Homo sapiens: one gene and its partner. The protein of the gene in region 2 interacts with the protein of the main gene of each other region in a pairwise test. Each region holds a gene or a part of one and is shown on either strand. Other genes may lie near its edges. The genes, in order: SLC5A6 and GALNT6.

Region 1 (3,495 bases), on a different chromosome or scaffold from region 2:
GTGAAAGGGGCTGGGGTGTGACCGAGTGAGCTGGGGTAGAGGTAGAAAAAGGGACACAGAACATCCCAGGCCTAAGCTACATGGAGTATGAGAGAACAGCTGGAATGTGCTCTAGAAGCCCTGGGAGAAGGCCTCAGTTGAGGCTGAATTCAGATATGCCTGGGACCCGGTCTCTGTTAAGAGACCCCGGAGAGCTGGTGCAGAGCTGATGTGGGCAGCTGAACAGGGCCAGGCAGGGGCAGAGGCCAGGTGTGGGAGGGTGTGAGCACAGTGTTCTTCACAAGACCATAAAAGTCCAGCTAGAATGTTCCGTTTCTAAAATCAGATGGGAACATTCTTCCTCCAGTTCCAAAAGTAAAAATCTGAGAGCAAAAGGTTCTGGCAAAGGGAAAGTGGGGCCGGAGAAGGGACAGACTAAGTAAGCCCCAGGGGATGAGAAGCCCTAGGAGAGGGTGTGCATCTTCTACCATGGTGAGCACAACACTGTCCCCTGCAGACACAGGGACAGCAGGGACTTGAAGCCACAGCCCCCCTCCTCAGCACAGGAAGGTGACCTGTACATAGGATAGGACTCCTTATCCTCACCAGAGGATGCAGTAGGGTGGACAAGAGCAGGTGAAGACAGTACAGGAGCCCAAATTCTAGGTCCAATGGTAGTTTTTATTCCCCAGGAACAAAGATAATGTGGAGAAGAAACTCCAAAAGGAAACAGAGCACGGATGACAGAAATGACACCACGGCAGCCTGGCTCAGGAGTCAGGTAGATAGATGGCTGCTCCACAGTGGACCCGGTCATGGCCCTGGTTTCTTGGATCCACATTTGCCCCGTCTCTTAAGTGTCCATCTCAGAGGTGGAGGATGGAGACAGTGAGGTGGAAAACGTGCTTGCTCTACACAAAGACAAATGGATCTTCTATTCCCAGAGGACCAGGGACACCAAAACCTCCCTCTTCAGAATGGAGGTAGACAGATAAAAATGAGAGGGGCTTGAGTGTCACAGACAATCTGAAAGTAATAATAGGGGCTCACTGTGGCTGGCAGAACTGGTACTGAAATGGGGACTACAGGGGAAGCAGCTTCCAGTTTTATGGTGGAGAGTCAGTCCTGAATCAGGCCCTGGGGCAATTATAACCAGAGTGCTGTTTCTAGCCACTTACTTCAAAGGACTATGGCTATGTTGAATCAGAAGCCATTATCTTTTTCCCAGAGGATGCACTTCCATCCCTATTTCTGGCATGATCCTGCTCCCTACGAGCCTGATCCTTTAAAAAACAGATTGGCAAGCGACGAGAAAAACGGTGCCTCACATGCTTGAGATGTGACAGCTTCTCCTGCAGGCAAGAACCTCTCAGAACAAGGTCCTTTGGTATGAGCTAGATCATCCAGGCCTGTCCCTGCAGAACACACCAAGACTCATCCCTGTACTACAGGGTGGCCTCTGGCTATGGCCTGGCACAGTGAGGACAGAGGCGGGGTCCTGAGTCAACATCACAGGGAGGTCTCCTGGAGGATGCAGGTGGAGCTGCTCCCCTGATAGGCTGTGCCATCCAGGGCCATGGCCTCCTTGTCTCTGCTGTCCCCCAGCACACCATTCCTCGGCTTCTCAGGAAACAGGCCAGTGTCGAGGTGGTCCTGCAAACACAGAGCCAAAGGGGTGGAACTGGTGAAGACGGATGACGGGTGCTTGACAGGATTCACACAAAAAAGGTCCCCGCCAGAAGGGAGCCCAGCAAGGCTGGGTTCGGGAGGGAGAGCAGGGGGAAAAGAGGGAGGGCATAGCACAGCAGGGAGCACAGGGTGGGCTGGGGAGGGGAGCTGACTGGCCCAGGCTGGGGCTGAGCTCCTCTGAGCCCTGAGATCCTTCTGCCCACCAAGCCAGTGCAGTCCTGTGGGTAGAACCTGAGACAGCCGTGTGGGACAGCCTAGGCTTAGCTGATCCTGAGAGAGGCACCCGGGGCAGGGGGAGAGAAAAGGGGTAGAAGGGAACCTGAAGAGTCAGTGGCATCTGTGGAGAAGGGCAGGGAGGGGTCACTTGGACAGCAGGTACTACCTGGCCGTAGCTCCTGCAGTGGAGCCGCTTCTGACAGGACAACGGAAGGAGGGACAGGAGCTTTGGCAACACTGGGTAAATGGTTGCAGGGTTCAGGGACCGGCCTCGCATTCTCCCTGAATGGAAATGTGCTTCTGAGTCTCTGGGTGGAACCATCCACAGCAGCGGGCCCCATGTCCTCCCTTGGCCCCCAGAGACCCCAGCCCCCACCCACCTCCTACATCCCAGCAGAAAAGCCTGACAGCTACGGACACCCAAGAGCTCAGAGGGCAGGAGCCTTTCTCCCTAGAGTCCCTTAGGGCCCTCTGTTAACCCCTCGGTGCTCATCTGCACCGCAATCCCACACCCTTACCAGTGAGTAGACTGACAATCAGGCCCACCACAATCACTGTGGTGGAGTTGTGAGCACTGTACCATAAGTAAGACAAGGAATAGAACCGCTGCAGCCCTGTGGGCCTGGGAAGAGCAGAGGTGAGAACAATTAGCAATTCGTTGGCAGGGCATTCCTTGGGCACCAATCTCTACTTGCCCGCATGGTCCCAGGGTCTTGGGACCCAATACCCAACATTTCCCTGGGGCCTCTGGTGGCCCATCCCTTAGCAAGACCCCTGTGAAAGCCCTCAAAGGAGGGCTTTGAGAAAACAAGAAGATAGCAAGCCCTGCCTTACTTGGAGAAGGTAGTCAAGGGCATCAGTGTGGTCACAGTGGCAACGGTTAGATTGGTGGGCAGGGAGAAGCTGGACCCATTAGAGGGAGAGGGTGGCATGCTGGAGCCCATGCTGGTCACGATGCTCCCGATGCCAATCCAGAAGGCCATGACGAGCCCAGCCAACAGGCCCACAACAGCACCCTGCCGAGACACAGTGCAGGCCTGTCACAAGGCCAGTCCTGCCAGCCCTCACGGCAGTCCTCAGCTCTCCTGGTGACAGCCCTGCCAACCCCCAGGTCCATCCTGCTACACATGACTGTGGATCCAGATGCATCACTCACAGGAGGGTTAGCACATGGAAAGAACATTCCAAGGCAGAAGAGTCCCAGCAGCGGTCCCCCAACCATGCCAAAGATGCTGATTGCTGCCTAGGAGGACAGGGTGAGAAGAAAAGGAAAAAGAACACAGACTCAGAGATGCCCAGACTCACCATAAAGCATAGCCACCAGCCATGACCTTGGAGCCCCACTTGTCAGATCTGTCTCTTCTGTGGGAACAATCAGAACTCCAGAGGTGGCCGAGCGGTGGCTCATGCCTGTAATTCCAGCAGTTTGGGAGGCCGAGGCGGGAGGATCACCTGAGGTCAGGAGCTCCAGACTAGCCTGGCCAACATGGTAAAACCCCGTCTCTACTACAAATACAAAAATTAGCCAGACACGGTGGCACATGCCTGTAGTCCCTCAGCTACTTAGGAGGCTGAGACAGGAGAATCACTTGAATGTGGGAGGTGGAGGTT
Region 2 (3,813 bases):
GTAATCCAATCCAGAGGTCCCAGAGGGGTAGGTAATAAAGGCCAAATTTGACATCTGAGAAAAGTGACTATGATTTCCATACTCAATGAGAAGAAAAGGCTCTTCCCTTTACAGCGTACAGTTCCTCTCTAATCCATTTTCTCATTAACTCCCTGTGATTTGACACCACTATCACAGTCAATTTCCTGCAACCTTTCTTCCAACTTCATCCACTCCAGCTACTCTGTGGCACTTGGCCATGCTGCTACCTTCTTGACACTCTATCTCAGGGTTGGGGTGGGAATGTGTGAATCCTGGATCTCAAGGAATCATGTGACCTCACACCCTTTCCTTGACCTCCTCTGCTGGTCAGAGGATTTCTTGGGGACCCTCCAGAGAGATTCCCTGTCTTCCTCCTCTGGCTGCTGTCACACCCAGTGCTCTTCTCTCTGTCTGTTTTTTTTGAGACAGAGTCTTGCTCTGTCACTCAGGCTGGAGTGCAGTGGTATGATCTTAGCTCCCTGCAACCTCCACCTCCCAGGTTCAAGCGATTCTTGTCCTTCAGCCTTCTGAGTAGCTGGGATTACAGGCACCCACTACCATGCCGGGCTAATTTTTTTGTATTTTTAGTAGAGACAGGCTTTCACCATGTTGGCCAGGCTGGTCTTGAACTCCTGGCCTCAAGAGATCCACCCACCTCAGCCTTCCATAGTGCTGGGATTATAGGCATGAGCCACTGTGCCTGGCCCCAGTGCCCTTCTCTGCTGAGGAATTCCTGATAGCTTCAAGTGGCCCCTTGTTCTAGGGCTATCATACTTGGCTCAAGTCTCAAGAACCTCAGGTTCACAGCCCTAAAGACTCACGAAATCTGGGGATGAGGGCTGCCATTTGAGAAAAGGCCAAATAGGGTATAACACTTGACCTGGAAAAGACAAAGGCTAAGTGGGGAAGACACACTGTCTTTAACTTGAGGATCATGGGAATGCAGCCATGGGGGCGTTAGAGGGAGGGGGCTGCCACTCAAAGATCTAAGTGAGATCTCATTGTGCAAGATTGAGGCTATAAACAACTTCAGATAAAGGTTGGAATCAATTCCGGCCTTGTGGGCCTTCACTGGAGGAAACCAGGTGTGAGGATATTCCTAACCACCAGGGTTGCTGTTAAGAAATGCCCACCCCCCCCCCAAACAGCTCAGCATTAGAGTCCCACAGTCTCTGGAGCAGGCCTCAGTAGAGGAGAAAGCTACTGAAACCACAGCTTGGTATCAGGTCTCCCCAGTCACCCCGTGCCAGGTCCTGGTGCCAGGCTGAGTTCCTTCTTCCACATCATCTCACTTTCATAATTGCATTTCACTCTCACAGGTCTCCCTGGGCCTCTGGCCTGACCATAATACCCTTGAATCACAACCCCTGGGATCAGCACAGTTGTTCTGGGAAAGAAGTGAGGCATAGAGGAGATCCTTGCCCATATTATAAAATTCCCTTCAACTCTTTCTCTGGCCCTTGATCTATGGCCCTGGCCATACTAGCCATGCCTTTAGCAAAGCCCTGGTCTCCCCACAAGGACTCTGGGTGCTACTTACTCAGGTGGTCGGGTGTCTGGCCCCAGGGACCTCTGCAGGGAGATCCGGTCGCTGGCAAAGGCATTGAAACAGTGCTTCTTATAGCCTTCTTCCTTTTCCTGGGTCTCCAGGGGGGTCCACTTGCTCTTCTGAAATGCTTTTCCATCTGCCCCAGGGGCATTGGGGTCCTGTGGTGGCCGTTCCCAGAAGGGCTTCAGTTCAGCTGGGGTATAGAACCCAGGGAGGCAGGACTGGTTTATGGAGAACAGAGTCTGCTGGGCTTCTGGAGCCCTGATTTGGAGCTTGGGCATTGAATCTCTAAGGTTGTTCATGGCCTCCAGCATGAGGTCCAGGACGTGATCCTTCCGGCTCACCAGGGACTTCAGCCACGGCTTCTCTGTGGCCTCCTCTCTGCTGCTCACATCCCTATGCAGGAGGAAGAGGAAGAGCACAAAGGCGCAGCCCACCATGGCCAGGCGCAGGGGCATGTGGCGTCTGCGGAGGAGCCTCATCCTCCAGAACCAAGGGGCACCCCAGCTGCGTCAGCTCTGAGTCCTGAGCCCAACCCTGGAGATAGCTTGATACGTTGTGGTGGCCACAAGCTGGGGCCTCAGCCTGAGAAAGGAGGGGACAAGAGAGAGAAGTGAGCCAACACAGGGTAAGGAGGGAGTCGGGTGCTTGGGGTTCGAGGCCAGGCTCTGTTGCTGAGTGGTGGCATCACCTTATTGGCCACAACTTTCCCATATCTACATTTCCTTCATCCATAAAATGAGGAGACCGGAGGCAGTGTTTCTTTCCTGCCCTAAGATCCTAATATGCATGGATCTAGAGTCACTGGAACACTGAAACACTACATGAGATTTAATCATTAAACTCATGAGATTTAATCATTATGGCTTTGGGAAACAACTTGGTATTATCAAGAAAAATTTGAAATGAACACAGCCTGAGCCAGCAATTCCACTCCTCATTTTATATCCCAGACAAACTCTGGTAGATGCAAACCAAGAGGTATGTACAAGAACATTTAAGCCAACACTGACTTAAATGGCAACAAACTGGTAAAACCTTTAAGTCCACTAGCAGAATGAATAAATAAAGTGCAAAATACCCATACCGTGCAGTGCTCTACAGTGATGACCAAGAATGAACCACTTCTCCATGCAACAATGTGGATGTGTTGTTGGGTGAAAAAAGCAAGTGACAAAAGGATACATACAGTATGATTCCACTTATAGAAAATGTAAAAACATGCTAAAATTAAACAATATCTTGTTCTTGAATACAAATATGTGATAAAGCTATAAAGAAAGCTAAAGAAGACTAGCCTGGCCAACATGGTGAAACCCTGTCTCTACTAAAAATACAAAAATTAGCTGGGCGTGGTAGCGCATGCCTGTAATCCCAGCTACTTGGGAGGCTGAGGCAGGAGAGTCACTTGAACCCGGGAGGCAGAGGTTGCAGTAGGCTAGGATCATGCCACTGCACTCCAGCCTGGGCAACAGAGCAAGACTCCGTCTCCCCACGAAAAAAAGAAAGCTAAAGAAATGACATAACCAGTTTCTGAAGATGAAGAAAACGGTACAGGATTAGAGATGGTTAATGGGGGACTTCAAAGTGTTTTTTTCTCAAAGTGGATGGCGGCTGCTGGTGGACTGTAATTCTTTAGACCCTATACGTATTTTATAAATATTTCTTGGCCAAGCATGGTGTAATCCCAGCACTTTGGGAGGCTGAGGTGGGAGGATCGCTTGGGCCCAGGAGTTCAAGACCAGTCTGCTCAACGTATTGAGAGCCCATCTCAATAAAAAATTTTAAAAATTAGCGAGGCGTAGTGGTGCACACCTGTAGTCCTAGCTGCCTGGGAGGCTGAAGCAGGAGGACTGCTGGAGCCCAGGAGGTTAAGGCTGCAGTGAGCTATAATCGCACCATTGCTCTTCAGCATGGGCGAGAGAGAGATTCTGTCTTTAAAAATAAATAAATAAAAGTTATCTGTAATCTACTCCTATTTAATAAAAAAGAATTTAACAGAAACCTAAGATTTCATGACAAGACATTCCCGGCAGGGCTGGGCATGGGCGTTCACCAGGCTCCACCCCCAGGCATGTGGATCCATGCCCTAGAGGATGAATGCTTGCAGAACTTTCTGTGCAGAGTTCTGGACACATAAGCTCACTGGTTAAGCACTAGACATCAATGGCAAGGGACCTGGGCACAAATTCCAGTTCTTCCTCTTCTAGTAGTAGCACCTACCTCCTAGGGTTGTTACAAGG

Evidence for each region.
Region 1: the proteins of GALNT6 (region 2) and SLC5A6 interact in a two-hybrid assay, tested with the Homo sapiens proteins (one large-scale study listed by BioGRID and IntAct).

Annotation. Positions count from the first base shown.
Region 1 is NC_000002.12:27,198,948-27,202,442, forward strand, and holds the end of SLC5A6 (sodium-dependent multivitamin transporter), read right to left. Parts: intron 3,128-3,495; coding exon 3,041-3,127; intron 2,901-3,040; coding exon 2,719-2,900; intron 2,507-2,718; coding exon 2,403-2,506; intron 2,167-2,402; coding exon 2,051-2,166; intron 1,633-2,050; coding exon 1,489-1,632; coding exon of another isoform or gene 1,443-1,488; 3' UTR 640-1,442; downstream 1-639. UniProt on the Homo sapiens protein: Sodium-dependent multivitamin transporter that mediates the electrogenic transport of pantothenate, biotin, lipoate and iodide.
Region 2 is NC_000012.12:51,377,730-51,381,542, forward strand, and holds part of GALNT6 (polypeptide N-acetylgalactosaminyltransferase 6), read right to left. Parts: intron 2,156-3,813; 5' UTR 2,053-2,155; coding exon 1,562-2,052; intron 1-1,561. UniProt on the Homo sapiens protein: Catalyzes the initial reaction in O-linked oligosaccharide biosynthesis, the transfer of an N-acetyl-D-galactosamine residue to a serine or threonine residue on the protein receptor. May participate in synthesis of oncofetal fibronectin.